4 separate regions of the Homo sapiens genome follow, and all the other regions are linked to region 1. The links come from fine-mapping of genetic effects on gene expression. A gene starts in region 1. Each other region holds a variant in brackets. All regions are shown on one strand. Distances are from middle to middle.

Region 1 (4,000 bases):
CAGCTACTTGGGAGGCTGAGGCAGGAGAATCGCTTGAACCCGGGAGGCAGAGGTTGCAGTGGGCCGAGATCATGCCACTGCACTCCAGCCTGGGCGACAGAGCAAGACTCCCGTCTCAAAAAAAAAAAAAAAAAAAAAAAAAAAAGAGCGAAACTCCATCTCAAAATAAATAAAAAAGTTTATAGGTTAATAACCACAGCACTCCAGCCTGGGCAACAAGAGCCAAATTCCAACTCAAAAAAAAAAAAAAAAAGAAGAAGAAAATTATGAGAAATCAAACTATTTCCTTTGCTACTTTCTCCATGCTAAAACTTAAAAGCATTTAAATCATACTTTAAAAGAATAAACCCAAAGTGTTGCTAACATTTACGTTCCGCCAACTTTTGCTACTCCAATTTTCTAAAGATGTGTATAACGCTTTAGACTGTTGTATAAAACGTAAATACTGGGACAATGAATGCAAACGAAATTACAATTAAGTTTACATATTATCCATCCCCATTAATTAACATTTCAATCAACCTTGAATTGTGATTGATGCTTATTAAATAAAGGAAGTGAGCTATGCCTAAAGATGCTTTCTTCATGTCAAAATCACAAGGAATATTACACATTAATTCATAATGAGCCTTTTACTTGTTCATACCAATTCTAATAAGCTAGTTAATTAGGATTTAAGTTGAGAAAAAAGCAAATATCAAATCTTTTTTTTTAACAGAAAGGTCTAAACAAAGCTAAATACACCAAATCTCTTAAAATCTTTGGGCTATACATTTGTAAAAATTATTCAACTACTGATCCCTTTTTTGGCGCAAAGACCTACACTACTTACAAAAGTAAATGAATAAGGGAACAAAACGTTAAAGGGGGAAATTCTGATGCAAACTAAACTACAGCTAATTTAACAAAATTGAAGCTTGTCGTAAGATCTAATTTTTTAAAAAGTTTTCGCATTTTAGATTCCACAACACGCATTCATTACAATAGTTCCGAAAATCATGTTTCAAAAGAGGTGTAGTCAGATTGACTTCATCTGCAGAAGGGCAACAAAACCCAATTGCTCATGAAGGGTTATGATTTTACTCGCAATCAGTTTCCCGAATGGCTACTTTGTTTCATTTCCCCATATTTAATACAAATACACAATGAGATGGTTTAAAAGTGTGCAACAATTTATAGGGACCAGATGTCAACAAATTAGCAGTCTAAAGCAAGGCTGACAAATAATACATCATGCCGATTTTTGTCCAGAATAATTATAATGGCGGAGGGGGGAGAAGATGTGAGAGAAGGGGTGGGAGAGGGGAATAAGAGCTTAACTCTACACGCACATCTCCCAAAAAGAGCTCTTTCTTTCCACCACGGGATTATTGTAAAGGGCCCCCAAGCTTTAGCTACTGTTCAGGCAGGGTGCGTTAGTTGTCAGCCTGGCTGGGATGGATTCGTGCAAGGGATGTCACTCAAACGCAAGTGAAAGTACGGTCCTTGCGACTTATTTCGAGTTTTCTTTGCAACAGCAGCCCAAGGCCGCTACTCTGCTACTTCTATCTAAAAAACAGAAAATCGGCAACCCCCGCATCATCAATCAAGCTGAGAAAGGAAGCTCTTGGGGCAAAGGGGCAACAGGGCACCCCCAAATCTCTGAGGCTCGCTCCAGGCAGAGGCAGCAACCTGAGCTGCTCTGGGGCCCCTGCGCTCCAGGGGACTCCCGGAGCCCCCGGGCCGCCTCCCCCGGCCGGCGCGGCGGGGAGGGCCCCACTCCACACCCCGGGCTCGCCCCGCGGTCCAGCCCCAGGGAGGTTAACCCCTTCGGCGCCCTCCACGCCCTCCCCAAGCGGGGCCCGGAGCCCCCGCCCTTCGACCTCCCCGGGACTAGGGGGTCCGGGTGGCTCAGGGGACGAAGGCGCGGCGGGCGCGGAGGCGGCGGGTGGCTCCGGCCTAGGCCCGGGCAGCGTGTCCCAGCGCCCTCCCCCACTCCCACACGCTCGCTCCGGGCAGGGCGCGGACGCCCGCCCGCCGCGGCGTCCGCCCGCCCGGGGCTCGGGCCCCTTCCGGCCGAAGGCGCAGACCGGCGGCTACCTGCGGGCTGTGGAGGGCCATGGCTGCCCGTTTCATTGGGACTCCGCGATCCTCCGGCTGCTCACGCTGCTTCCCCCGCCGCCGCCATCTTCTCGCCCGCACATACACACTCGCATCGGCCGCCGCGCCTGCGCACTGGCCGCGCGCCGCGGGGCGCGGGGAGGCCGGCCCGCTGCTGCGCCTGCGCGGCCGACAGGTGGGCGTGCGCCTGCCGGGCCGCGGACATCCCCTGCCCCGCCTGGAGCCTGCCGGACTCTGAGCCCCGCGACCCTCGGGCGGAAGCGGCCGGGCGGCTGCACACCAGGAGCCCGCCGAGGCCTGGCTGTGGATCCGGAAGGGGAGAGGGCAGGCAGGTAGAGGTGGCAACGCCAAGGCGCCGGCGGGCCCGGCTCCTCACCTACTGGGGGCCACCTGGGCCCCCGGAGCCCGGGAGTCGCGGGCTGAGGTCGGCCTGGGGCCCACGAGCCGCCCTCAGCGTACCTGGGCCCGGGCCTCGGGAGTGTTCGCATTAGATCCCCGAGGAGGGTCTGGTTTATGAAGATCCCGTTGCCGCGCATTCATTCATTTGTTCACTCTTCATTCACTCCCCAAGTCCTGCCTGGGCGCCTGGGCCACGCCTTTGGCTAGGCATTAGGGGAAAAAAGCAAAACAGACAAAAACAAAACGTAGGGCATAAAAGCACGCGTAAAGTGCTTGACATGAGGCCTGGCAAGTAGCAAACACTCAGCAAGTGCTACGTGTTGCACACGTGCGTGCGTGTGCACGGGCAAACCAGCCTTGGGGGTCGTTGGTTCATTCATTATTAAGAAACAGGGGCCCCTGCCTAACTGCACTGTTTTCCAGCCAGTGGGTCCACCCTTGGGTTTTGGCCCCTTTTCTAGCTGTGATTTCAGACAAGCGACTTTCCTTCCCTAAGCCTTGGTTTCCTCACCTGTGAATAAGACAAATATGTCATAACGCGTAAGATTTCTGTGAGGTTCAAATTAGATTAACGTGAGCACACTGGCCAAGAGAATAGTCAATAAAAATTGGCTACTGGGATTGTTATTAATAACCATTACTATTGGTTTCATTTATTCAACAAACACCTACAGAGAGTCTGCTCTTGCTAGACCGTACACTGAGCAGAGGAGATGAACAGGAAGATCCATTCCCACGTTACATAAAATAGGGAGCCTGGTCTCTTCATAAATGGGATGCCATGAAAAATATAAGTGGGCCAGGCGCAGCGGCTCACACCCGGAATCCCACACATTGGGAGGCCGAGGCGGGCGGATCACTTGAAGTCAGGAGTTGGAGACCAGCCTGGCTAATATGATGAAACCCCAACTCTACTAAAAATACAAAAATTGGTGGGATGTAGTGTGGCACACCAGGCGTCCCAGCTACTCAGGAGGCTGAGGTGGGAGGATCACTTGAACCCCGGAGACGGAGGTTGCGGTGAGCCGAGATCGTGCCACTGCACTCCAGCCTGGGTGACAGAGCGAGTCTCTGTCTCAAAAAAAAAAAAAGAAAGAAAGAAAGAAAGAAAAGAAAAGAAAAATATAAGTGGTAGGGAGGGGTTGTTCCAAAATAGAAGAGCTAGAAAACATAACCAAATACAATGTGTCATCTTGCTTGGATCCTGATATGTCTTTTAAGCTGGTTTTACTATTTGTTGACAATTGGAGACATTTGAATATGGATTGGATATGGGTGATCTTCGTGAATTATTGGTAATTTTATAGTGTAATAATTATACTGTGCTCACTGAGAGAATGTCCTTATTGTGAGGAGATGCATTCTGAAGAGTTGAGGAGTGAAGGCCATAATGCCTGTAAACTATTGTTTAATGGTTCAACAAAAGATAAAATCATGTACACACATAAACATTCAGGGAGAGACAGCAAATATGGCAAAATGTTTACTATTGTTGGCTCTA
Region 2 (7,750 bases), 100 kb before region 1:
TCTGCACATGTCTCAGCTTCTGGTGGCCGGCAATGCCTGATGTCCCGTCTGTGGCCATTCCAATCTCCGACTTCCTCTTCACATGGCCACCTTCCCGGTGCATCTGTGTCCAAACTTTCCTCTTCTTATGAAGACATCAGGCACTAGATTAGGGCCCATCCTAGTTGAGTGTGACATCATCTTAATGTGATTACATCTGCAGAGACCCTAGTTCCATATAAGGTCCCATTCTGAGGTCCCAGGTGGACATGGATTTTTGGGAAACGCGATTGGACCCAGCATTCATTGTAACGGGGCCTCTGCAGACGTGATTCTGCTAAGGGTGGTGACATGGGAAGAGCGGCCTGAATTCTCCTGTGGCCCCCACGGAATCACAAGCCTCCCTTGTAAGAGGGAGGCCAGAGGGTCAGCGTCAGAAGAGAAGGTGCTGTGATGATGGAAGCCGAGGTTGGAGTGATGCACTCTGAGGATGGACGAAGGGGCCATGAGCCCAGGAGTACAGGCAGCCTCTAGAAGCTGGAAAAGTCAAGGAGACGATTCTCCCCTGGAGGTTCCAGGAGCAACCAGCCCCGCCCACACCTTGACTTTAGCCCAGTGATGCCGATCTCAGACTTCTGACCTCCAGAACCGTAAGATGGGATACTTAAGCTGTTTCCAGCCGCCAACCTTGTGGTCACTTGTTACCGCAGCCATGGGAAACCAGATGCATCCATGAAGAGCTGTGTCTGTGACACGGCGTCGGCAGGGCTGCAGAACCGGGCTCCTGCGCCGCCCTTCCAGGGGAAACAGCCATGAATGAGCCCTCAGGCAGCCAACTGTTTCCCTGCAGAGCACCCGGGCCCGGCAGGCAGCCGGCTCCCAGACCACACACACTCCGCACAGTCCTGAGTCATCTGGCCTGAAGGTGCTTCCCTAGAGCCTCTTTACCGGAAATGGCCTGCGTTCGACCTGATTATTTTTCTAGCAATCGATGAACACTTCCCAGATGCAAAATTGGATAGCGGCCAGTTCCAGGCTGTGCATGGCCCAGGACGACCAATGCAAGAGCCTCCGGGGGGTTCTCTAGCCCGAGTGGTGTCACTGCATTCCCACTGTCCCCGAGCACCCACGGCATCACCGCCACCATCAGGGGAGCCTGAAGTGCCTGCAGAAGCTCTGGCCAGGCCCAGGGGGTGGACAGGAAGTCCAGTCATCCTCGGCATCCTGTGAACCGCTGCTTCTTGCATTTTTAATCTCGGCGGGTCCCACTTGCGTGTCTGAAAATGCAACTGCCTTATTTTCCCTAACAGGGCAGTTGAGGGGTGGGGTAGTACTTAACCTTGACAACAGGACATCTCTTGGTTTCTTTTTTTTTTTTTCTGAGTCGGAGCCTCACTCTGTCACCCAGACTGGAGTGCAGTGGTGCAATCTCAGCTCACTGCAACCTCCGCCTTCGGGGCTCAAGTGATTCTCCTGCCTCAGCCTCCCCAGTATTTGGGATTACAGGCATGTGCCACCATGCCCGGCTAATTTTTGTATTTTTAGTAGAGACGGGGTTTTATCATGTTGGCCAGACTGGTTTCAAACCCCTGATGTCAAGCGATCTGCCTGCCTCAGACTCCCGAAGTACTGGGATTACAGGCTTGTACCACCATGCCTGGCTAATTTTTGTATTTTTAGTAGAGATGGGGTTTCACCGTGTTGGCCAGGCTGGTTTCAAACTCCTGACCTCAAGTGATCCGCCTGCCTCTGCCTCCCAAAGTGCTGCTTACAGGTGTGAGCCACCATGCTCAGCCTCAGTCTCTCTATATCATCTCTGTTAATTTGCAGTGGTCTCTGCAGCAACTAGCCCACCCATGTGCACTCAGAGCCACTCAGGGCCCTCGCTCTTTCCCTCCTTCCTCTCCTCTCCCCCTAGATGAGTGGGAAGGAAGTTTAGGGACTTCACGGTTTTGCAGAGAGGCAAAGACGGAGCCCACCCACCGATCTTTTTACATGACAGGAGCCGTGATTAATTTCCCGGGGATGTCCTAATAAACTGCTGCAAACTGGGTGGCTAGCAATAGAGATGTGTTCTCTCCCGGTTCCGGAGGCCAGCGGTCTGAAATCAAAGCGTCTGCAGAGTGGAGAGAGGGAAGATCCTTCCTGCCTCTTCCAGCTTCCAGGGGCCCCAGGTGTTCCTTGGCTTGTGGCCGCATCACTCCCATCGCTGCCTCTGTCCTCGCGTAGCCTTCTTCTCTTCTTATACGGACATTCATGGTTGCACTTAGGGCACACATGGTCATCCAGGATGGCCTCATCTCAAGACCTTCTATTGATTACAGCAAAGATACTTTTTCTTTCTTTTTTTTTTTTTTTTTTTGAGACAGAGTCTCACTCTGTTGCCCAGGCTGGAGTGCGGTGGCCTGATCTCGGCTCACTGCAACCTCCGCCTCCCAGGTTCAAGTGATTCTCCTGCCTCAGCCTCCCGAATAGCTGGGACTACGGGCGTGCGCCACCACGCCCAGCTAATTTTTGTATTTTTAGTAGAGGCGGGGTTTCACCATGTTGGCCAGGATGATCTCAATCTCTTGACCTTGTGGTCCACTCACTTCGGCCTCCCAAAGGGCTGGGATTACAGGCGTGAGCCATCGCAGCCAGCCTATTTATTTATTTATTTATTTATTTTAGATGTGGTCTCGCTCCATCACCCAGGTTGGAGTG[C/T]GGTGGTGTGATCTCGGGTCACTGCAACCTCCGCCTCCTGGGTTCAAGCGATTCTCGTGCCTCAGCCTCCCGAGTAGCTGGGATTACAAATGTGCACCACCAAGTCCGGCTAACTTTTGTATTTTTAGTAGAGGTGGGGTTTCACCATGTTGGCCAGGCTGATCTCGAACTCCTGACCTCAGATGATTCACCTGTGTCGGCCTCTCAAAGTGCTGGGATTACAGGCATGAACCACCGTGCCCAGCCAGATTCTTTTTCCAAATAAGGTCACATTCACGGGTTCTGGGCATCAGGGCTTGGATATATCATTCTGGGGGCCACCAGTTAACCCACTCCAGCAAGCTTGGACATACCGGGCCACATCGGCCTACAGGGCTTGGGGAGTCACCCAGGCTGGGGCTGCTCCACTGTGCACGAGGGCTGTCCTCCACCTTGCACTGGAGGGAGCTGCCTCGTAACACGTTCGCTCTCAGCCTCCTCCTTAATCTGCCTCCTCCCTTGACTCCAGGGTCCCGACCAGGGGCAGAAGCTCTTTTTCACCTGTCCGCTCACCTTGCTGGAGCTGGGAGGGAGGATTTTCCACCTTCTTATGTTTGGGGTGTTCCTTCCATGAGGCACTGGGTTTTCCATCCCCTCTGGCTGATAATAAGTTTGAAGTTCAATAGGCCTGACCTTTTTTTTTCTTTTAAATTTCTCACTGACTTTGTTGTTTTTTTGTTTTTGTTTTTCTTTTTGTTTTTGTTTTGAGACGGAGTCTCGCTCTGTCACCCAGGCTGGAGTGCAGTGGTGCAATCTTGGCTCACTGCAAGCTCCGCCTCCTGGGTCCACGCCATTCTCCTGCCTCAGCCTCCGGAGTAGCTGGGACTACAGGCGCCCGCCACCATGCCCGGCTAATTTTTTTGTATTTTTAGTAGAGACAGGGTTTCACCGTGTTAGCCAGGATGGTCTCGATCTACTGACCTCATGATCCGCCTGCTTCGGCCTCCCAAAGTGCTGGGATTACAGGCGTGAGCCACCGCGCCTGGCCCTTTTTTCACTGACTTTGTAAAACAATCGTTTTTTTAAAAAAAACTTTTAATTTCCAGGGTACATGTGCAGGATGTGCAGGTTTGTTACTTAGGTAAACGTGTGTCACGAGGGTTTGTTGTACAGACTATTTCGTCACTCAGGTATTAAGCCCAGTATCCATGAGTTCTTCTTCCTGATCCCCTCCCCGCTCCCACCCTCCACCCTCCGACAGGCCCCAGTGGGTGGTGTTCCCTTCTATGCGTCCATGTCTTCTCATCGTTTAACTCCCACTTATCAGTGAGAACGTGCGGTATTTGGTTTTCGGTTCCTGCGTGAGTTTGCCAAGGACCACGGGCCTGACTCTTGATGCAAAAGGGGTGCAAAGGATGTGGGCAACCCCGTTCCCCTCTTCATTCCTTCCCAGGGCTCTGGTCTCACTGAGAACTCTAAAAGCTAAACAAGTTGCTTTCCTGCTGAGGTTCTGCTAAGCTTTCCTAGTCCCCCGAGGCAGGTAGGGGCTCCAGCTGAGGAGGAAAAAGGTCGGCTAGCCAGAAATTCAAATGACGGAAAGACATCCCTGTGTTCTAAGAAATAGGATCCCCTGACGTCCACCGACCTGGGCAATGTCACCAATAGGAGGCCTCAGAAGCACTTTTAACATCAACCTTACAGGGGGTGGGGTTTATACACAAGCACGTGTACCCATTTAAGTGGACAGCTGGATGAGGAACAGATGTCTATACCCGCCCAACTACCACCATGATACAGAATGTTCCCATCACGCCCATCTGCGTCCCACCTCCCCCAGCAACCATGGATCTGCTTTCTGTTGCTTTGCTGTAGACTTGCTTGCCTGTTCAAGAATATTCTGTAACTGGAAGCATACGGCATGGTCGAGGACTCCTTTTTTTTTTTTTTTTTTTTGAGATAGGGTCTCGCCCTGTTACCCAGGCTGGAGTGCAGTGGCGTGATCTCAGCTCACTGCAACTTCCGCCTCCCAGATTCAAGCGATTCTCCTGCCCCAGCCTCCTGAGTAGCTGGGACTACAGGCAAGTGCCACCACGCCCGGCTCATTTTTGTATTTTTAGTAGAGATGGGGTTTCACCATGTTGGTCAGGCTGGTCTCGAACTCCTGACCTCGTGAACCACCCACCTCGGCCTCCCAAAGTGCTGGAATTACAGGCACGAGCCACCACGCCCAGCCAGTCGAGGATTCTTGACTCCTCTCTTCCCTTCCTGCTCCCCTGAAACTCGTCCCACACCTGGTCCACTTGACGCAGGTAGAAGCCACATCAGTCCCTCCTTTCTCCTGCAGCCCATCCGCCATTTTGGTTGGGGGCTCTGGACTCACCCTATGGGGAGGCGCTGTGGCCCAGTGGCCAGCTGCCCACCTCCTGGGTTTGGATCCTAGCCCACCATTTCCTCACTTGAGACGCTGGGCATGTTCCTCAGGCTCTCCAGGGCTCAGCTTTCCTCATCTGGGGAATGGGGCTGAGAACATCAACCTCCGTGCTTCAGGAGCAAACAACAACACTAAAAGTTCTGGCTGGGTGCGGTGGCTCACACCTATAATCCCAGCACTTTGGGAGTCCGAGGCAGGCAGATCATCTGAGGTCAGGAGTTCGAGACCAGCCTGGCCAACATGGTGAAACTCCGTCTCTACTAAAAATACAAAAATTAGCCAGGCGTGGTGGCGCATGCCTGTAATCCCAGCTACTGGGGAGGCTGAGGCAGAAGAATTGCTTGAGCCCCGAAGGCAGAGGTTGCAGTGAGCTGAGATCGCACCACTGCACTCCAGCCTGGGTGACAGAATGAGACTCTGTCTCAAAAAAAAAGAAAAAAGTTAGCATTCCCTGAGGGTGAGCACAGTGAGCTCCCAGCTGGTCAAGCCTGGCCAATGAGGAAAGATTTTTAAATGAATGCAAATATATTTCTTTTTATGCTAAAATTAAAATTAATAATGCCTATTTCTTTTTTTTTTGAGAGGGAGTCTCGCTCTGTCGCCCAGGCTGGAGTGCAGTGGCTCGATCTCGGCTCACTGCAAGCTCCACCTCCCGGGTTCATGCTATTCTCCTGCCTCAGCCTCCCAAGTAGCTGGGACTACAGGCGCCCGTCACCACGCCCGGCTAATTTTTTGTATTTTTTTAGTAGAGACGGGGTTTTACCATGTTAGCCAGGATGGTCTCGATCTCCTGACCTAGTGATCTGCCCACCTCGGCCTCCCAAAGTGCTGGGATTACAGGCGTGAACCACCGCGCCCAGCCAATAATGCCTATTTCACTCGGTTGCTGTGAGGTTCAAATTAGGCATGTAAAATGCCTGGCTGTTTCTTTCTTTTTTTTTTTTTTTAAAGAAAAACCTACACATGTTAATTATTTTAATTGTTCCTCTTCTCTGGTCTCCACTTTGCAGCCAGAATCATTACCTGAAAACCCAAGCCTGACCAGACACTTCCCTGCCCATTAATGACCTTAGTTATCTTCATTACTGGCAACTTTCTGGGTTCATCTCTCTCTACTGCACCCAGCTCCCTGCCCCATACCCTCCCCACCCACCTGCAAGCACATGCACCCCTCTACACATCAGTAGCACTAAGCTTTTTCCTTCTCTCTGAGCCCACAGGGGCCTTTTGTGCCACTGGACCTTTGCACATGCTCTCTCTCCACCTGGGAAACCCCACCTTTCAAGACCCAGCACCGACATCACCTCCTCTGTGAAGGCATGTGGTTGGCAAGGTAGGCAGTTGCTTCTATCTTTTGTCTTCCTTAGCAACATCTTGCTGTCATGCAAATTGCTTTGCTCACCTGTTAAAATAAATGAGGTGAATTGAATTATCGGTTCTGGTTCTCCACTCTGCTGTCTGTTCTACAGCCCAATGGCCTTGGGGTCTACCATGGCCTCGTGGTGGGCAAAGAGTACTTTCCACCTCTTGACTTTGAGCTTAGCCATGTGACTTGCTTTGATTGATGGGCTTCCGCCATGGCCACAAGGAGAAAATGCCCCAGGCAATCCACGGGTCACAGAACAAAGTGTCCAGTAGAATTGGATCCATCCTGTAGCTTGAGCCCAGCATAGATCAGGTGACCCCACCCCACCCCATTTTCCCAGATGATTTGCAGACAGAGAGCAAGAATAAAGCCACAGAGTTACAGGTGGTTTGTTACTCAGCATCACCGTGGCAATAGGTAACTGTGACAATTGTTCCATCTCCTCTTTTACTTCGAGCATCTATAAGCTGGAGACCACGTCTCACTCCCTGGGTATCCCCAGTACCAGCATAAGGCTGATATTTGAAGGGGAAGGAAATTTCAGAGGGCCCTGTGAAATACTGATTGTTAACTTCAGCCAGCAGGGAAAGAGACAGAAACAGGAAATCCAAGCACTGGCAGGCCCTCCCAAAGATAGCTTAGGGGCCAAGATCATAGGCCTGGTAATTGGACAGCACAGGTTGGAATTCCAGCAACTTCCTTCAGTTCACTGAGATGCCACTTCATCAGCCATGGAGGGGAGCTAAGAATCTTGTCAGTCTCACAGTGTTGTTGGGAGGATTAAATGATTGAATGTAGGCAAATCCCTGCATATAGTGTTTGGCACGTTGCCAGTTCCTCGAAGACACTCCATCAAATTGATATTGGAGAGACATGCAAAGTAACCCAAGAACTGTACTTAGCAATGACAAGAACTGGAGAGCATTTATTCATGAAAAGTATCCTCTGGCAAGGGAAGTTTTCGAGCAGAATACACAACTTTAGAGAGAGGGCTTAGCAGGAGCATAAGGAAGGCGAACACACCGTTCCTGACAGAATACTCACCTTCAGGACCTTCCACGACCTTCCATGACCTCATGTCTCCTAAATTTCCAGGATTATCAAGTTTGCTCTTCTGATGATTCAAATCATAGAAACTATAATTGTGAGCTTAGGAAAAAAAAAATACTTAACTTCTGGTCTAGGTTTTATTCTGTTTCCTAATGATAACTGAAGGTAAGTCCAAACATGCAATTTTTTTCCAAACATGCATTTTTCAATTGATCTTTTCCTTAATGAGTCATCTCATGATT
Region 3 (7,750 bases), 45 kb before region 1:
TGACTCTATTGCTCTACTATCTCACGAGACTCCTGAAACTGTCAACAACTACGTTCTGTCTATCGAAGCCTCAACAAACAGGCTGAAAAGAATTATATATTTTTAAAGAAACTACACTTTTGCTCAGAAAATTAAAACATCTTCATAACTGACCTAACCAAATAGGATTAAAAAAATAATCTGTTTGGTAGGGGTTTACAATATGTCCACACAAAAATAATTACGTGGACTGTGTGTGGCAAGGCTTTCCTCTACTACCAGTCATTAAGAGGCCCTTACTTTCAGTGTTTGACAAAGCTACTTCAATTAGACTTTAACATATACAGAACATAACAAACTATTTATCAAACTATATTTAAAGTCATATGACTAAGTAGAATGTTCTAAAACATTTTAAATGAAGCTTTTCTTGGTTATTTTAAATAAAGATAGAGAAAATCTCCCTAAGATGGGAGGTTTTCCTTTGTGGAGCAATTTTAGAAACGAAACTATAATATTCTCAGCTGGGCGCGGTGGCTCACGCCTGTAATCTCAGCACTTTGAGAGGCTGAGGCAGGAGGATCACTTGAGGTCAGGAGCTCAAGACCAGCCTGGCCAACATGGTGAAACTCGGTCTCTACTAAAAATACAAAAATTAGCCTGGCGTGGTGCCAGGCACCTGTAGTCCCAGCTACTAGGGAGGCTGAGGCAGGAGAATTGCCTGAACCCAGGAGGAGAAGGTTGCAGTGAGCCGAGATTGCGCCACTGCATTCCGGCCTGGGCGACAGAGTGAGACCCCCTCTCAAAAATAAAGAAAAGAAAATAAAATTCTCATGACTTCGAACTTAGAATGCACATTTTTAACAGGACCCCACCATGCATTTCTCATTATAGGTTAAAAATAAACTTTTAACTTAGTAATCTATATAAAGGCTTACACAATCTATCTTTTTTTTTTTTTTTTTTTTTTTTGAGATGGAGTCTGGCTCTGTCGCCCAGGCTGGAGTGCACTGGCGCCATCTCGGCTCACTGCAAGCTCCGCCTCCCAGGTTCACGCCATTCTCCTGTCTCAGCCTCCTGAGTAGCTGGGACTACAGGCGCCCGCCACCACGCCTGGCTGATTTTTAGGTTTTTTTTAGTAGAGACGGGGTTTCACCGTGTTAGCCAGGATGGTCTCGATCTCCTGACCTTGTCATCCACCTACAGTATCAGTCCTTGCAATAAATACATTCTGAAAGCTGTATTCAAGAAATCGCCTGGCCTGAGTGCGGTGGCCCACACCTGGAATCCCAACACTTTGGGAGGCTGAAGCGAGCAGATCACTTGAGGTCAGGAGTTTGAGGCCAGCCTGGGCAGCATGGTGAAACCCCATTTCTACTAAAAATACAAAAAAAGATAGCCAGACATTGTGGCATGTGCCTGTAATCCCAGCTACTTGGGAGGCCGAGGCAGGAGAATCACTTGAACCCAGGAGGCGGAGGTTGTAGTGAGCCAAGATCGTGCCTCCTGCACTACAGCCTGAGCAACAGAGTGAGACTGCATCTCAAAAAAAAAAAAAAAAAAAAAAAAAATCACCTGGCTTTAAAAAATATATATGAAGCCCAAAATAACGACGTCTGGCCTATCATTTGCTCATTTAAGAGAACTTCAGAACAACAAGAGTACCTGAGATAATGTATTTTGTATAAGGAATAAAATACTCTTAAAAATATATATACATTGCTTGCTATCACCCTATTGCCACCCAAAGAATGTGTTTTATTTTTTACACAATTCTGACCATCCATCGAAGGGTGTGCATTTGGCAGCTTGCTGCTACATCCTGGTAATGAAGGGTGTCAGGTGTTCCAAAAGGTCACATCAGAAAGTATTACAGAAAGCCTAAACCAAACAGCTTATTTTAACTTGGCTACTAGGGTGACAATCTGAAGATCTGGTCACCAGGCTTGGTGGAATCCAACCTGATGACACAGCTTCTGCTTCTTAGGTACGTACAGTCACGCGCGGCGTAACATTTCGGTCAACAATGAGCCGCACGTATGATGGTCCCACAAGATTCTAGTGGAACTGAAACGTCCTGCCGCCTAGTGGCGTCTTGATGCTCCTGACCCTGTGCAGGCCCAGGCTAATGTTTGTGTCTTACTTTTTAAGTTTAAAAAGTTAAAAACAATTTTTAATATGAAAAAGCTTATAGGAAAGTAAGAATAAAAAGGAAGAAAATATTTTTGTATAGCTGTAGTGTGTGTTTTAAGCTAAATGTTCTCATGAAAGAGTCAAAAAGTTTAGAATTTTTAATTTAAAAGTAAAATAAAACGTAAAAAAGTTACAGTAGGTTAAGGTTAATTTCTTATTGAGGAAAAATTTGTAAATCAACGTAGTACAGCCTAAGTGTTGACTGTTTATAAAACTCGGCTTTGCTCAGTACTGTCCTGGGCCTTCACATTCACTCAGCACTCATCACTGACCCATCCAGAGCCACTCCAGTCTTGCAAGCTCCATTCACGGTGAGTGCTCTATACAGGTGAAGCACTTTTCATCCTTTATACCATATCTGTACTATATTTTTTCTATGTCTAAATGTGTTCAGGCACACAAATACTTAGCACTGTGTTACAACTGCCTACAGTATTCAGTAGTAACACGCTGGACAGGTTTGCAGCCCGGGAGTAATAGGCTGCACCACCAGCCTAAGGCTCTACCACCTGTATTTGTGTAGTACTCTCTGATGTTAACACGCACATCTCGGAACACATATCCATCTTAGTTAAGCAACACGTGGCTATGTGAGGACACATACCTCTTTCATACCCTGCTGCATTTCTGACTTCCTACTGTAACTTTTTAAAAACAATCTGTGAATTATGCAGCTTTCTATTTTTATTGTGAATTGTTTCTACTTTGGAGCCTTAGCACTCTAAAATAAAACATTAACTTTGGGCTGAACCCTTAACATTTTTTTTCTCTTCAAGAGCTGACCTTGGTGTATCAAAATTCTGAATAAAATCCATTTACTCAATCCAAAAAAAAAAAACCATGTTATTTCACAAAATGATTTCTTGTATCTTAAGAAATATAAAAAAGGAGCACACAGTGAGTACAAATCAGGATTATCATACCAAAGGTATATCACAGAAAAAGTCCATTATACATTCATACCGTGGAGCAGAATTACTTGAACAAAAGGCAAGAAATGGAAATGTAACTTGTCAACAGAAAAGAACTGCTAACAGACATGGATCTTTCACTTAACATAAAGTTACGACAACCCTCTCCTCCCATTTGTTTCTATATTATCTTACTTTTAGAGAACATTTAAGACATAGGCATCCTTCAGACGTTGCTATTAACACACAGGTAATCTGCCATTGTTATGGGTAACACCACAGTCTATAAGCCCAGTTGATGAGGTCTGCTCCCATCTTCACTCTAGATTTGTATCTTTTCAACTATACCTGCAATCTTTATGGCTACAGGATCCTCTGAAACCGGAACAAGCCCTTCTTTGACTTCAACCTGCTTTTCAGAAACCAGGGGAGATATGGCGGGAGGGGAATACTTAGTTTCCACATAGGCCACCGGCGAGGAGGAAGAGGGCTTAGAATCATGAAAGAGGCTGGCCCAGGACTTGGGCTGGCTGACAGGAAGGGTGCCTGATGCAGAGCCCGTGCCGTCAGCAGGAGGTGATGCACTCTCGGGTTTGGTTGGGTCCAAGTCTATGCTTTCCGTGGTGTGCAACTCCACCCCGTTGGTAGCTGTGCCCTCACCCGAGGATTCAAGTATTTGTCCATTAGCAACTCCAAGGTTTTCAGTAGTATCGGTACCAACGCAGGGCTGAGCCCCAGCTGTCCTTGACAGGGTGTCTCTGCCAGCCTCTGCAGGGAAGCAGGACTGACCAAAATCAGCCCCGGGGCCCCCCTCTGGCTGCCCTGCAGTCCTGGTGTCACTGCCGAGTGCTCCGGGGAAAGGACTGTCAGGCACAATGTCACTGACAGAGTCTGTGGAGTTCTGGGGGCTGTTACAAGTCCTGGGCGTAACTGACGGGGGCATGTCACCCATAAATTCTGCATCCTCTGCACTGACACTGTTCGGGACTGCTGAATTGGCATGGCCATTGACCAGGGCTTCTGTGGAGATACTATCATCGCCACCATCTTTCAAATAGCTGTAATATCCAGGTGGCCGCTTTTTCTTCTTTTTACGCTCCCTTTGTCCAAGACCACCTGAGACACCATCATTTTCCAAAACTTCCGCCTCCACATTAGAACTTCCATCCAAAGCGAGGGCAGAGCCTGGGTACTGGCAGTCGATGGAGCCATAGCTTGCTTCTTTAGTGATACCATCAGGGGTTATTTTGGAAGCTGTACAACCGAGAATAAATTCAGGGGCCTGAGGGTTCAGTGTGCTTGAAATACTGTAGCTGGGGGTTCTCGGCAAAGTGTCACTGGGTTCAATGACTTCATCGACACCAAACTCAATTCTCTGATATTCTTGTCCTGTTTAGAAAGAAAACTATTAGTTAAGAACCCAGTTCTACAAACTCTAAGTACCAGTAATTACTCACTTTCTCTTTGAAAATAAAAACCTTAAGTTCTCTTCCTAATCAACAAATCTATTACGTCCTTTACTTACGCTGAACAATTTGCGGAAAATGAAACAACTATAAAATTATTATTTAATTTGGG[G/C]ATATGAAAAGCAGAAGCCTGTACTTATCTTTCTAGCTAAGGAAGGCTTTCAGAAGGTAGAAATTAAAATAAATTTGTAATAAAAAGCAAGTAATATTTTGCCAATTTTAAAAATACCCCCCAGTGGAATCTGACTTTCTTATAGCTGCCTTATGCCTGAGATAAAGGAATATGTATTTTGGACAACTTAAATTTTAAAAGATCATGACAACTAACTTAGGGACTTAAAACATGGTTAAATCAGCTTCTGTAGTTAACGTGATTTGATTAATTCCAAAAACATGAACTACGCAAAGAATCCTATACATACTGGATAGGAGAAATTAGAAAGTATAAATTTAAAAACAAAAAAAAAAGATGTCAAAAAAAGATTCAACAACAACAACAACAACAACAAAGAATCCTATATATAAAAGCGCACTTCAGAGCACTCTTCTGAATTCTCTATCTCTTGGTCTCCTCCGCTGGTAACCTTCAATTAAGTCTGAAAAATGGCCCTGACATGAACACATGCAAACGTCCTCTAAATAAATTCACACTGGATTAACCCCATGGGTGGTAAAGCCTTCCAAAAATACCAAAAGAAAAAGTTAGAATTGTGAACTTTTAAATATCTCTTGGGAAGCCTTCAATACTTCCTTCCCAGTTAACCACAATCCACATAATTCATTCCTGCTAAGACAGACGTATTTTTATAGTTTACACCTCTGAAATCAGGTTAAGTTTTAGAATCAATTGTGTCTTTCAACAGAAATCAAGCATCAATGTCACCTTATATTTGATAAAAAGTTACACATTTTGAAGTTAAGGGAAGGACACATGCCTTATATTTCATCTTTAATGCATGAAGATTTCTTCCAGGCTAGCATTAAGGGGCCAATTTTTTTTTCAAGGCATCTATCTTAAGAAAAGAAACTAATACCCAAAGAACGGTGTTCTACTGCGGAGAACTGAATATATTTTACCTTGAAAGGACCCCTAGAAATCTTTTTGTAGAAGAAAAAATACAGACGCTGAGAGGGGCCAGTTACGTGCAAGTGAGTGTGCAGGAGGCTGGAGCTACACAGCCTCCCGAGGCCTCCTGAATCTTCGTATGCTTTAGAATCACAGCCCCCGACTGTGGGGGGTGAAGGGTGGTGGCAGCACAATCCTGCCCCAACAAGAGAAAGTTCCTGGAAAAGAACACTGATGACGATTACACCTAACAGCAAGTTTATGCATGAAGTCACGACCATCTAATTCCTTTGGCTACTATTTATTTTTTGTTTCCTTACTTTGAAAAGAATATCAAGGGGAAATGAATTTATTATCATATGTAGGGGCTGGCTGTTCATTTTGGTTCCATACATCCCCTATTCCCTGATGTTCTGGGGCCGTCAAGGCTCCCCAGATTGAAACGGGTGTGCCTGGGGCGGAAGGCTCCATGTGGAGCCTGCCCTTTGAAGGCTGTGAAATCACATTAGAAACTAGAACGTGTTGTGTCATTCAGCTTATGCAAGACTGATTATTTCTAAGACACAGATGTGCTGTACACATCTCAATTCTCAATCTTATCAGAACATAAAACATTCTAGAATGTGATGTAACGTGAACAGAACCATTTCAGTATGTTATAATTAGTATCAAACATTTACTCAATACCATGTTTGATCATCTCACTAGAAGGCAGATTCCTAGCCAGCACAGTTCCTCTTCTTATGGAGGAACACTCACAATGGACGCCATGTGCCTTGCACCGCATGGCAGAGAGCTCAGAGCCCAATGTGCCAGGCAGACGAAGTGCAGGACGGCCTGCACGCTTGGCTTCAACAACCCAATCAATACATTAGGAAGATGGAAACTCAATACTCAGGTAATGCAGGCAGAGGCTCTTAAAACCACGAATCCTAACACAGCATTTCTCCAAGGCTGCTCACTGCAGTACATGCAGTAGAGAGGACTGGACTACAAGGCAGGGGGCGAGGGAGGGAAATATACAGAGATTAGTGACACAAGGGCCCTGCTCAGAGAGTTCACATTTATTAGGGAGACAAATACAAACAACTGAGAATGAAAACATGGAGGGAGGGGAGAGAAAGCTGTGAATAGCTTTAGAAAAAGGATTCTTCTGGATGCAGGAAACAGTGATCAACTTCTATCAGAAACTAGAGAGGTCAGTGGAACTTGATGGATCACTGAATTGCTAAGGGCAGGGTGAAGGAGTGGTATCTCAAGCTTTAGGAACATCTAAAACAGGCAGTGCTTGAGGTGAAGGACAACCATTCACCTTGATGTGATTATTACTTGTTGTATGCCTGTATGAAAATATCTCATGTACCCCATACATATATACACCTATTATGTACCTACAAAAATTAAAATATAAAAAAATTAAAAAACACAAAAATAGAAAAGGCCGAGATCTAAAAGGGAAGCCACGATGAGGTGCCTCTGCAAAGGGCTTGCTGCAGCTGGAGGTAGTGGGAGGGAGCAGAATAAAGCATCCTAAACCATTCATCCAACAAATGTACTGAGGGCTTACAACATTCCAGATACTACAGGCGCAGTGACAGACACAGAGAAATGGATCCTGCCATCAGCAGCTGAGCAGGCTGGAAAGAGAGGCAGGTCCATGACAGTGCCCACAGGCTCTGTACAGTCGAACAGGCACTGGAAGAGAAACTAATGTCATGGAAACACAAGATACCCAGAAAGGCTGCAGAGAAAAGCAGGCCTGTCACTAACTGTGCAAACTGGTGGCAAGATTCCAGTCGTGTTTTTGGCAGAAAAAAGGCAGGACTTAGAGGGAACAGAGTAAAGAATGGAGAAAAAGGGCCAAGAAGCAGTCACTGAAAAGGGCAGGCAGGCTGGAAGGAGGGAGGGGGAAGCAGAACTCCAGAGGCTGGGGGAGCTGGTGGTGCCCACTGCACAGGGAGGAGGGTGAACTCAAAGAAGTGATGTGCATGGGAACATCATGGGGCATTTGTAAGCACTGGTTCAACATGAGCAGCATGCTCACCACGTGCAAAGCACACAGTGACAGAGGAAGTCCCACTGACTCAGATGTCTGAGAGGTTGACATCAGCCAATTAAAAGGTGGCTCAGGAGGC
Region 4 (4,000 bases), 180 kb before region 1:
AGGTAACATCAAGCAAGGCAGCATACACCAGGGAAAGAGCAGAGTCGAAAGCCGGACACATGTTCACCTGTTTGTCACCTTTGCCACGTGCTCACTGTGTGGATTTGGACAGGTTACTATGAGCCTTGTTTTCTTCCTACAGGAATAAGGATAACGATACCTAGAGACGGTGTTTTTAAAGAAAGGACCTAAAACATAGTATGTGTTGAATAAAAGGTAGCCTTCTGGCTGGGTGCAGAGGCTCATGTTGGTAATCCCAACACTTTGGGAAGCCAAGGTGGGTGGATCACCTGAGGTCAGGGGTTCGAGACCAGCCTGGCCAACATGGTGAAACCCCGTCTCTACTAAAAATACAAAAATTAGCTGGGTGTGGTGACGGGTGCCTGTAATCCCAGCCACTCGGGAGGCTGAGGCAGGAGAATCTCTTGAACCTGGGAGGTTGCAGTGAGCCGAGATCGTGCAATTGCACTCCAGCCTGGGCAACAGGAGTGAAACTCTTGTCTCAAAAAAAGAAAAAAAAGTAGCCTTCTATTGTTGCAAATATCCATTAAGTTCTTGCTTTTTTTTTTTTTTTTTTTTTTTTGCTTTATTGGTTTAGCTGCTATATTGTTTGGTGTGTACAGTTTTTATTCCTTTTCCTGTAAATTGTATCTTCTGTGCCATTGTGTAACATTACTTTGTCTCATTCAGTACATTTAACTTTAAATTCCACTTTTTCAGAGAGGAATATTGCCACTCTTGCTTTTCATGTGTTTGTTTGTATTTGGCTGGGATTGCTTTGCCCAGCTCTTTATTTTTAAATCATTTGAAAACCTCAGCCTCTGTCTCTTAATGGTAGAATTTGGTTCAAACATTTGGTGTAATAATCGACAATATTATTTTACTCCTTCATAAAAATTCTAACTCTTATAACTCAATTTTAGCTGAATCACTTTCAAGAAGAAAAAAAGACCCATTTAAAGAGGAAAGAAAAAAGATGGGGGGAGATAAGCTTAGTCATGAAGCCTGCTCTGACCTTACAGAGCCCAGTGACCTCATATTTACAGGAATCTGGAACACATTAAGGCAGACAGAGGCAAAGATGATGGCGGGGAAGCGGGAGAGAGCTGTAAAGGAGGGGATGATGACAAGCAGCTGAGTAAAGCTCTATCTGGAGGCCGGGTGCAGTGGCTCACCCCTATAATCCCAGCACTTTGGGAGGCCAAGGAGGGAGGATCGCTCGAGCCCAGGAGTTCGAGATCAGCCTGGGCAACATAGTGAGACCTTGCCTCTATTCAGAAAATAAAAAAATAAAAAACATTAGCTAGAGATGAATGATGCTGCCCTAATCACAGAATTTTAGATCTAGAAGATTCCCTGGATTTGATAATCCCGGTTCTGGGCCGTTCCGCCACAAGGAAACAGCTTGACAAGATCACACAGCCTGCTGGCAGCAGAAGTGGGACCACAGTCACATTGTCTGGGTCACCATGTCCCCAAACCCTGGACAACCAGAGGGAACAGACAATGTTCTGCAGGATCCACCTAAGAAAAACCGGGCTAAAGCTCCCTGGTTAAAATTCGGAGGGAAAAAACAGAGGAAGAGATTGGTATAACCAGAGTGGCTATCAACAAGCAGTAAATTAGGGTGGTCTGTATTATCTTCTTTGTGCTTTTAGCTAAGTGTGTGCATAACTGAGAAGAAATACAGTGCGTGGACCAGTTTCTATAAATGCATCCGGAGAGCTGGGAAGATGACTAAATAGCCGGAAAAATGAACTATCTGAAGCATGAGAGCCTTCAAACTGCGAAAACATTTAAGTAAGGCCAGGCACTCCTGAATCTGCATTTGTGAGGACAGGTAGGTAGAAGCACTACTATCTCTAGAAATGGGGAAATGGGGAAAATGTTTGCAGAAATGAGTGGTCTAAACTTAGCTAAGAGGTTGGCCGGGTGTGGGGACTCACACCTGGAATCCCAGCACTTTGGGAGGCAGAGGTGGGCGGATCATCTGAGGTTGGGAGTTCGAAACCAGCCTGGCCAACATGGTGAAACCCTGTCTCTACTGAAAATACAAAAATTAGCCAGGCATGGTGGTGCACTGTGTAACCCCAGCTACTTGGCAGGTTGAGGTACAAGAATCGTTTGAACC[T/C]GGGAGGCAGAGGTTACAGTGGGCCAAGATTACTCCACTGTACTCCAGCCTGGGCAACAGAGTAAGACTCCATCTCGAAATTAATTAATTAATTAATTAATTAATTTAGCTAAGAGGCACTGGAATAAAGTTTCAAGTATCCAGATCTTGGAGCTTGCATGTTGAGGTCTTTAACAGGCTTTGCGAGATAGTTGTTGAAAATGCATCCTACTCACATCTGCATAGATGTTGGTTCCAAACACCGGAGCCCAGTAGGAAGGTTCGTCTTTGCAGTGTGCCGGACAATGGATTCTGAAAAACAGGAAGCATTTATGTGATGGGTCTGAGCACAGAAAACCAAACTTCTTAAGCTGGCTCTCTTTATTTGAATTCCAAGATTTAAGTTCGTAGATGAAAGGAAACCGCCATACAGTTTTCCTCATTAAGAAAAAAAACAATACTTCTCCCCCCTCAGCAGAGGTAAAGATATTACTATTTTTGCTTCTCTTAAACAGTGTAGATAGAATTTTTAAAAACACACACACATCCACAAAAGACATGCACAAACAAAAAGGTAAAGAGAATAAAAATCTAAGAGAGAAGAGTGTGGAATTGTGAGGCTGCCCCTCCCATTCTTGGATGTTGGCTAGTTCACACTGTGGGTACATTATGGAGATTAGCATCAAGAGACTTTTTCTAAGGCCGCTTCCCTGTGTGGAGGAGGAAAGGGTGGAGGGCCCTCACCTCGCTGAGTCACAGAATATTCCAAGGCGGGGGCACTGATAACCTGGGGTGGAAGGGGTTAGATCACTGTGTGTCAGTCACCACAGATCCTCCAGGGCATGAGGAAAGCACCTCAAACTGGAAATGGGTGACCCCTGGGTGGTTTGACAAACTCAAGCCAGGAAAGAGCACGGGCTTTACTTAAGAAAAGATCTTCTGTGTTTATCTGGAACAGTCCACCGTGGGCTGGAGCCCAGGGACCAAGAAACCAAAATGGCAGCCGGAAGCCATCTGGCCCCAGGCAGGCAGGATTATGGGAAGGAAGAAGGCCAGGCAAAGGGACTGAGAAGTTGAAACAGTTCTTAGGGGCTGGGAGGAAGGGAAATGAGTGGGTAGAGAGAAAGGGTGTGTGTGTGGATTTAAAAAAAAAAAAGAAGGCCAGGTGCAGTGGCTCACACCTGTGATCCCAGCACTTTGGGAGGCCGAGGTGGGTGGATCACCTGAGGTCGGGAGTTCGAGACCAGCCTGGCCAACATGGTGAAACCCCATCTCTACTAAAAATACAAAATTAGCCAGGCGTGGTGGTGCAGGCCCGTAATCCCAGCTACGCGGGACGCTGAGGCAGGAGAATGGCTTGAATCTGGGAGGCAGAGGTTGCAGTGAGCAGAGATTGTACCACCGCACTCCAACCTGGGCAACAAGAGCGAAGCTCAGTCTCAAAAAAAAAAAAAAAAAAGAATTGGAAAGAGTCTAAGAACAGTCTCCATTCTTTCCTACTTCTTTTGGAATGGCAGATCAGAAATTAACATTTTGCATATTGCACTGTGTCAAGTTTTTCTGTTTGTATTTTCTGAAATTCTTTCCTTCTGCTTCTCTCTAATATTCAGGGAAAATCTACTAAAAGGCTGTTATCCCCACTCGAACATTCAAGGGGGATCAAGACGGTGGTGCGGAGGCAGTGGAGGCCCAGAGAAAGCCTGAAGTGGGGTGGCAGTCAAGGGAAAGCAGTCTGGGCCCCTCCCAACCAGTCACCCTCCTGGGCCTTTCCCTGCTCGGAACCTTGGGGTCACCACCTATTGTCCCTTGGAGAATCCACAGGTCTCCAGCCCAGGATGAGGGCTCATGAGGGCCACACCACCCAGCCTCCAGGGCAGCTGTCTTCATCCT

Evidence for each region. PIP is the estimated chance that this variant, and not a neighbour inherited with it, causes the effect. A credible set is the group of variants that fine-mapping cannot tell apart.
Region 2: its variant is the best candidate, but not a certain one, in a credible set for the expression of USP10 in monocytes after LPS (Fairfax 2014, PIP 0.51).
Region 3: its variant is the best candidate, but not a certain one, in a credible set for the expression of USP10 in aorta (GTEx, PIP 0.68).
Region 4: its variant is the best candidate, but not a certain one, in a credible set for the expression of USP10 in whole blood (INTERVAL, PIP 0.64).

The regions. Positions count from the first base shown.
Region 1 is chr16:84,698,191-84,702,190 of GRCh38, reverse strand. USP10 (ubiquitin specific peptidase 10) reads right to left here and starts at 2,191. Exons shown (of 14, transcript NM_005153.3): 1 at 2,080-2,191. The coding sequence starts at 2,100. RefSeq lists silencers at 1,620-1,729, 1,770-1,879, 1,890-2,109, 2,200-2,719.
Region 2 is chr16:84,799,869-84,807,618 of GRCh38, reverse strand. It overlaps LOC105371378 (a long non-coding RNA gene), which reads right to left. Exons shown (of 3, transcript XR_001752293.2): 3 at 7,357-7,607. Among named protein-coding and RNA genes, the nearest start is that of CRISPLD2, 16 kb to the left of the region's middle. RefSeq lists enhancers at 448-1,024, 1,025-1,603, 2,771-3,271 and a silencer at 864-1,063. The variant C/T (reference allele first, on the strand shown) is at 2,683.
Region 3 is chr16:84,741,355-84,749,104 of GRCh38, reverse strand. USP10 (ubiquitin specific peptidase 10) reads right to left here. Exons shown (of 14, transcript NM_005153.3): 4 at 3,432-4,472. Among named protein-coding and RNA genes, the nearest start is that of USP10, 45 kb to the right of the region's middle. The variant G/C (reference allele first, on the strand shown) is at 4,662.
Region 4 is chr16:84,878,931-84,882,930 of GRCh38, reverse strand. CRISPLD2 (cysteine rich secretory protein LCCL domain containing 2) reads right to left here. Exons shown (of 15, transcript NM_031476.4): 13 at 2,347-2,422. Among named protein-coding and RNA genes, the nearest start is that of LINC02176, 47 kb to the left of the region's middle. RefSeq lists an enhancer at 2,131-3,330. The variant T/C (reference allele first, on the strand shown) is at 2,132.